2 linked regions of the Homo sapiens genome follow. The protein of the gene in region 1 purifies or fractionates together with the protein of each later gene. This does not show direct contact. Each region holds a gene or a part of one and is shown on either strand. Other genes may lie near its edges.

What was found.
Region 2: the proteins of NACC1 (region 1) and XPNPEP3 purify together in Homo sapiens (affinity purification with mass spectrometry, with the first as the bait; one large-scale study listed by BioGRID). This does not show direct contact.

What each region holds. Positions count from the first base shown.
Region 1 is NC_000019.10:13,131,702-13,135,436, reverse strand, and holds part of NACC1 (nucleus accumbens-associated protein 1), read right to left. Parts: intron 238-3,735; 5' UTR 230-237; coding exon 1-229. UniProt on the Homo sapiens protein: Functions as a transcriptional repressor. Seems to function as a transcriptional corepressor in neuronal cells through recruitment of HDAC3 and HDAC4. Contributes to tumor progression, and tumor cell proliferation and survival.
Region 2 is NC_000022.11:40,863,474-40,867,208, reverse strand, and holds part of XPNPEP3 (xaa-Pro aminopeptidase 3), read right to left. Parts: intron 1-3,735. UniProt on the Homo sapiens protein: Catalyzes the removal of a penultimate prolyl residue from the N-termini of peptides, such as Leu-Pro-Ala. Also shows low activity towards peptides with Ala or Ser at the P1 position.

The DNA of each region.
Region 1 (3,735 bases):
ACTGGGGCTGCACAGCCGCCGGCAGCTCCACCACGGCGCTGCGGCTGTTGTTGAACAGGTCCCGGAAGTAGGAGCTGCTGGCAGCAAGCACGGCCCGGTGGGCCTTGAAGGCATGGCCCTTGACCACCACTGACACGTCACAGTACAGGCCCTGCAGCCGCTGTTCATTGAGGCACTCCAGGATGCTGTTGCCGAAGTTCGGGATCTCCATCTGCAGTGTCTGGGCCATGGCAGCGGCTGCACGAGGGGCAGGGAGGAATGGAGAGACAGAGACGGAGGGACGGGGTCAGGCGGCAAATGTGGGTGCTGGCCTAGCCCTGGCCCCAAAGACCTCCCCTGCTGGAGGGACATCCGCACGATGGAATCTACCATGGTGCTAAACCACACAGAGCCCTCTACCCTATCTGTCCTGGTACAGACTCACTTTTACAATATGTGGTCAAATCTGCTAAGCTAGCTGCAGACCAGGGTGGCCACACGCTATCCCTTGCAAAGAGGAGGGGGCAAAGGCATACTTATTCATATGTACTTGAAGAGTAACTGAATATGCTTAAGTGCTCGGAAGAGTGGCTAGGACACAGTGTGCTACCTCTGAGTGCCAGCTATTGCAAGCACCAGGTACATATATGGTATCTCTTCAGGGTACTGGCATGGAAATGCCAGAAAGGCAGGGTCATCTGACTGTGCAGCAGAGTCTGCAGTGCTGGGCACATGCCCTTCAATCACTGTTTGTATAATGACTAAATGACCACTCAAGAAATTACATGAGGTCAGGCGCAGTGGCTCACTCATGTAATCTCAGCACTTTGGGAGGCTGAGGCAGGCGGATCACTTGAGGCCAGGAGTTCGAGACCAGCTTGGCCAACGTGGCAAAACCCTGTCTACCAAAAATACAAAAATTAGCCAGGTAAGGTGGTGTGGGTATGTAGTCCCAGCTACTAGGGAGGCTGAAGCCAGATAATTACTTGAACCCAGGAGACAGAGGTTGCAGTGAGCCGAGATTGTGGCACTGCACTTCAGCCTGGGGCATAGAGTAAGACTGTCTCAAAAAAAAAAAAGGAAAAAGAAATTGCATGAGGCTGGGTGCAGTGGCTCATGCCTGTAATCCCAGCACTTTGGGAGGGCAAGGCGTGTGGATCACTTGAGCCTAGGAGATTGAGACCAGCCTGGGCAGCATGGTGAAACCCTGCCTCTTACGAAAAATACAAAAATTACCCCGGCATGGTGGAGCACACCTGTGGTCCCAGCTACTAGGGAGGGTGTGGTGGGGGGTGGATCTGTTGTTGAGCCCAGGTCAAGGCTGCAGTGAGCTGTGATTGCGCCACTATACTCCAGCCTGGGATACAGACAGAGACACTGTCTCAAAAATAAATAAATAAATAAATAACTTACATGAAAACATCTCTAGTCATCAGGGAAATTAGAAGAAAACATCATCAGGGAAATGCAAATCCTAACCACAATGAGACACCATCTCACACCCACTAGGATGGCTGGAATCAAAAAAGTTGGTGAGGATGAGAAATCCAGAACCCATTTCCACTGCTTGTGGGAATGTCAAATGGCACAGCCACCATGGAGAACAGTCTGACGGTTCCTCAAACGGTTAAAGAGAGTTACCATATGACCCAGCGATTCCACTCCTGGAATTTATGCCCAGGAAAAACGAAAACATTTGCCTGCATTGAAAACCTGTAAACAAACGTTCACAGCAGCATTATTCACAATAGCCCAAAGGTGGAAACAATCCAAACGTCCATCTGCGGATGGATGGGCCAACTAAACATGGTCAGTCCATACAATGGGATATTATTCAGCTATAAAAAGAAAGGAAATTCTGACACATGCTACAACATGGATGTCCCTGGAAAAGATTATTCCAACAGAAAGAGGCCAAACAAAAGGACCACAGATTGTATGATCCATTTATAGGAAATGTCCAGGACAGGCAAATCCACGCAGACAGGAGGCAGATTAGTGGTTGCCAGGGGCTGGGAGGCGGGGAGAATGGGGGTGTGGTGAGGGAAAGCAAAGGGAAGGCAAAGGTGTGTGGGGTTTATTCTTTTTTCTTTTTTTTTTTTGAGATGGAGTCTCACTCTGTCGCCCAGGCTGGAGTGCTGGGATTCCAGGTGTGAGCTATCACGCCCGGCCTCCTCTGTAATTCTATAGGGTCTCTAGAGGGCAGTGGTCCTAACTGGGCAGAGTGCGAGTGAGAAGGCTTCCCTGAGTAAGGCAGATCTTTCCAGACACTCCAGCTGGCCAGCAGGAGAAAGTAACAAGTACATGCAAAGGCCCTGGTGCAGGAATGCACACCTTCCCTCCCTTCCAGTTAGCTCTCAAGCACCTTCCATGTTTCATTAGCAACTCCACTCAGATCTGCCTCCCTGGGCTGGGCACTGAGAATACAGTGGCCACTCTCCTCCTAATCTGGTAACACCCGTTCCGTCTGAAAGGGCTGCTGTGAGGAATAGAAACGGCAAGTGTTCAAAGGCTCAGAGGTACAACCTAAGGTTGAGTCCTGGCTCCAGCACCGACCTGCTCCTCTGACCAGGAGCTCCAAATCTCTGCTTTCTCCATTTGGAAATCGAGGCTGAGGAGGTCAACCTGATTCTACAAACTCAACCTACACTTATTGTTACTGAATGATCATTCAAGAAATTACACGGAAACATTACTAGTCATCAGGGAAATGTGAATCCTAACCACAGTGAGATACCATCTCACTTACTGAGCTGCTACCCTGGCAGGCCACAAGCAAGACACAGGCCCTGCCCCTTACAACACCCAGGCGAATGGAGGAACCAACTCACAACTTCTATGAGCTCCCCGAATCCTCTTAGCAAGACTTCAGGGCTGGTTTCATACTCCCCTTGCAAAGCTGGAAAAACTGAGGTCATGTGGAAATTGAGGACTGTCCTGAGGTCATCTAAAAATTCATTCACCAGGTTCAAAATTCAAAAGATATGTCCTGAAGGGCGGGATGACTCAAGCCTGTAATCCCAGCACTTTTTTTTTTTTTTTTTTTTTTAAGACAGAGTCTTGCTCTGTTACCCAGGCTGGAGTGCAGTGGTGCCATCTCGGCTCACTGCAACCTCCGCCTCCCAGGGTCAAGTGATTCTCAGCCTCCTGAGTAGCTGGGCCTACAGGCGTGTGCCACCATGTCCGGCTAATTTTTGTACTTGTAGTAGAGATGCGGTTTCACCACATAGGCCAGGCTGGTCTTGAACTACTGACCTCAAATGATCCACCTGCCTTGGCCTCCCAAAGTGTAGGATTACAGGCATGAGCCACCACACCTGGCCAATCCCAGCACTTTGGGAGGCCGAGTCAGGTGGATCACCTGAGGTCGGGAGTTCGAGACCAGCCTGGCAAACACGGTGAAACTCCATCTTTATTAAAAATACAAAAATTAGCTGGGTGTGGTGGCCGGTGCCTGTAATCCCAGCTACTCGGGAGGCTGAGGCAGGAGAATCACTTGAACCCGGGAGGGTGGAGGTTGCAGTGAGTCAAGATTGTGCCATTGCACTCTAGCCTGGGCAACAGAGTGAGACTATGTCTCAAAACAAAAACAAACAAAAAAACCCAAGATATGTCCTGAGCTATCTGCTGCCCCTACCACTTACATGCAAAAAGTGGTAAGGCCAAGATTCAAACCAGGGTCTGCCTAGGCACCACAGCCTGTGACTTCCCTTGCTTGTATCTTCCTTCCTCTTCCCCTCCTCAAAATCACTGCCA
Region 2 (3,735 bases), on another chromosome or scaffold:
TGATTCTGTGTTTGTAAAATAATGATGATAATGCCTACCTCACGTGACAGTTAAAAATCTAACTCCTTAATTTAGAATACAAAGCCTTCAAAGCTATCTTACCTTCCTAATCTTTTCATCTCCCTCCAGCAGCACTAACCCACTGGTGGAGTAGGCTGCTGTTGCATTGGTGATTTCTCTTTCTCTCCTCCTGCACCTTCTCCACATGCACGCTCGTGCACACGTACTCATGCACACATAGTGTCTTCTGTAATCTCATTAGGCAGTAAAATTTCAGAATATAAAAAGTTAACTGATTCCTTTTTCAATGCTCATATGAAATAATCCTAGCATATTTTGGACCACTCTCAAGCAGAGGGAGCTTAACTTTATTAAATTCAAAGCAAACAAGTAACACTTTAACAGGAGACATAAATTAAGATGTTTATTCCCAGTAAATTTTTAAAAAAGGTCTCAATAGCTTTTTACTTACATTAAACATCTTTTGCCCGAAGTCATATAATTAGTAGCAAAGCTGGTGTGTTAAGTCCTATTTCAAAAATATCCAGTTCATAAGCTTCAAACTCTTTTGCTTAGGAAACTTCATGATTTGGATCCTGCTCCCTTATCTGACCTAATCCTCAAAAAACATTATTGCAGCCACACTAAGCTACTTGAAGAACCCCGGCTAAATCATTCTGCATCATAATAGCATTTGCATTAAAAAATATAGTTCTCTTAGTCTAAAGTGGACACTGCCTGCTTATACGATTACAGAAATTCTAAAAAATACCAGCTCAAACATCACTTACGCAAGAGACTTCTCTTACTCTTCTCACACCTACTGCCTCTGTTCTGCTTGTTTCAGATGTCTTCCCCAACGCTCCTATGATTTCTATTTTAATACCTACTACACTTCACATAATTGCTAATTAGTTTGCCAGTCTACTATGAACAATCTTTGGAAGCAGAGATCACTTGTTATTTGACTTTATTTTCCCAGTGACTTGATTTGAAATGTATTTTGAAGTTAAAAGTCAATGAGTCTGGCTTCTAATTGGACATAAGAAATAAAGAAAAAAGAGGAATTAAGAATAATTCTTGATTTTTGACTTGAACAAGTGAATAAATGGTTGTACCACTACATGCAACAGGAAAGCCTGAGATATTTATTGGAAATAAATTTAATGGAGAGGTCAAAGAGCAATCTTAATTTCAGGGAGAAAAGTGCTAGGCTAGATATATAAATTAGGGTGTTATAAGCACACAGATGGCATCTAAAGCCCTGGGAATGGGTATTACCCAGGGAGACTGAACAAAGCCTGGCACTGTAATATTTTAGTGTGAGAAAGAGCACAGGAGAAAGAAGGAAAACTAGAAGAGTACAGTATTTAGTGCTGGGCATGGTGGCTCATGCTTGTAATCCCAGCACTTTGGGAGGCCGAGGCAGGCAGACAGATCACTTGAGGCCAGGAGTTCGGGACCAGCCTGGCCAACATGGCTAAACCCTGTCTCTACCCGCTGCCCCCCCGCCCCCCACAAAAAAAGAGTGTGGTATTTAGGAAGTTAAAAAACAAGTGTTTTAAGAAGTGGGGAGGACTATGCCAGGCGCAGTGGCTCACACCTGTAATCCCAGCACTTTGGGAGGCCGAGGCAAGTGGATCACCTGAGGTCGGGAGTTCGAGACCAGCCTGACCAACATGGAGAAACCCTGTCTCTACTAAAAATACAAAATTAGCCAGGCATGGTGGCACATGCCTGTAATCCCAGCTACTCGGGAGGCTGAAGCAGGAGAATGGCTTGAACCTGGGAAGTAGAGGTTGCAGTGAGCCGAGATCACACCACTGTACTCTAGCCTGGGCAACGAGAGTGAAACTCCATCTCAAAAAAAAAAAAAAAAAAAAGTGAGGAGGGCTCACAGTGTGGCAAGTGCTTCAAAATACAAGGAAGCCAAAAGGACAACCACTGGATATGGTAACATCAATCACTGGAGACCCTGGCGATTTTAGCAGAGTAAAGAAGACAGAAGACAGATTGGAGTATGCCAAGGAGGGAATAGGATGTAAGAAAGCAAAGACACTGAGACAATACTCTGGATAAGTTTTGTTGTGAAGAGGCAGAGAAAATGGCACAGCGGATGGCTGGGAGGCAAAGGATCAACAAAGAAGGGTATAACTGCAGAAACAAGTGCTCGTATTATAACTTTACACTCCACTGAAATTAGTTTTTTCAAACTATATGAATTTCTTAAGAGCAGAATTTCCTATTTTCTACCTTTTCTCTGTATCATAGTGTCAGAGGCGTTTGAACCAGAGCAACTCCATCTTCAGTAGGGGTTTGGTAAAATAAGGCTAAGACCTACTGGGCTACATTCCCAGTAAGTTAAGGCAGTCTTAATCACAGAATGAAATAGGAAGTCAGCACAAAATGCAGGACACAAAAACCCTGCTAATAAAACAGGTAGGTTATAGTAAAGAAGCTGACCAGCTGGGTGCGGTGGCTCATGCCTGTAATCCCAGCGCTTTGGGAGGCTGAGGCGGGCAGATCACCTGAGGTTGGGAGTTCGAGATCAGCCTGACCAACATGGAGAAACCCCCTCTCTACTAAAAATACAAAATTAGCCGGGCGTGGTGGTGCATGCCTGTAATCCCAGCTACTCAGCGGGCTGAGGCAGGAGAATGGCTTGAACCCGGGAGGTAGATGTTGCAGTGAGCCAAGACCCCACCATTGCACTCCAGCCTGGGCAATAAGAGCGAAACTCCACCTCAAATAATAATAATAGTAACAATAATAATGAAAATAAAATAAGTCCCTGTCAAATTTAGACACTGCGAACATCTTCTCCTAGACTGTCACCTTCCTGTGAGCTTTACCTGTGATGTTCTTAAAAAAAGGAGCTGGCCAAACCCCACTAAAACTAAGATGGCAATGACAGTAACCTCTGATTGTCCTCACTGCTACACTCCCACCAGCACCCCAAGAGTTTACAGATGCCATGGCAACGTCAGGAAGTTACCCTATATGGTCTGAAATGGGGAAGCATGAATAATCCACTTCCTGTTTAGGATATAATCAAGAAATAACCATAAAAATGGGCAACCAGCAGCCCTTGGGGCTGCTCTGCCTATGGAGTAGCCATTCTTTATTCCTTTACTTTCTTAATAAACTTGCTTTTACTTTACTCTGTGGATTCCACTGAAATTCTTTCTTGCACGAGATCCAAGAACCATCTCTTGGGGTCTGGATTGGGACCCCTTTCCGGTAACAGCAGGTTCTCAGTATCTGTTTGTGGAATGCCTAGAACCTAAACTCTTTAAGTCCTAGTCCGAGAAATGCAGTAGAGTGGAATGAGAACTTGAAATTAGACTCAAGTTTAAAAATCAGATTTTTCACTAACAAGCTATGTAGCCTTAGACAAATTACTTTCTCTCTCAGAACGTCTGTTTTCTTATGGGCATAAAATATTTATTTTGCTAGAGTGCTGTGTCAGTTAAATGAGCACTTGCTACAGTGTGACTCAGAGGGTACTCAAATAATTTTCGACATTATTGGTTATTATTTCCAGTGGTAGGCAAATTATAATCATGGGTAAGCCACACATAAGTACATGTAAGCACATACACTGGAGAGAATTTAAATTGAGTTTTAAGCATTTCACAATACCTCTAAAAAATGAGTATATATAAAAATGCAAAGCAAAAAAATATTCAGACCTGACAAATGGTCTTGAAAGACTAGAAGCATACACTACAGTTT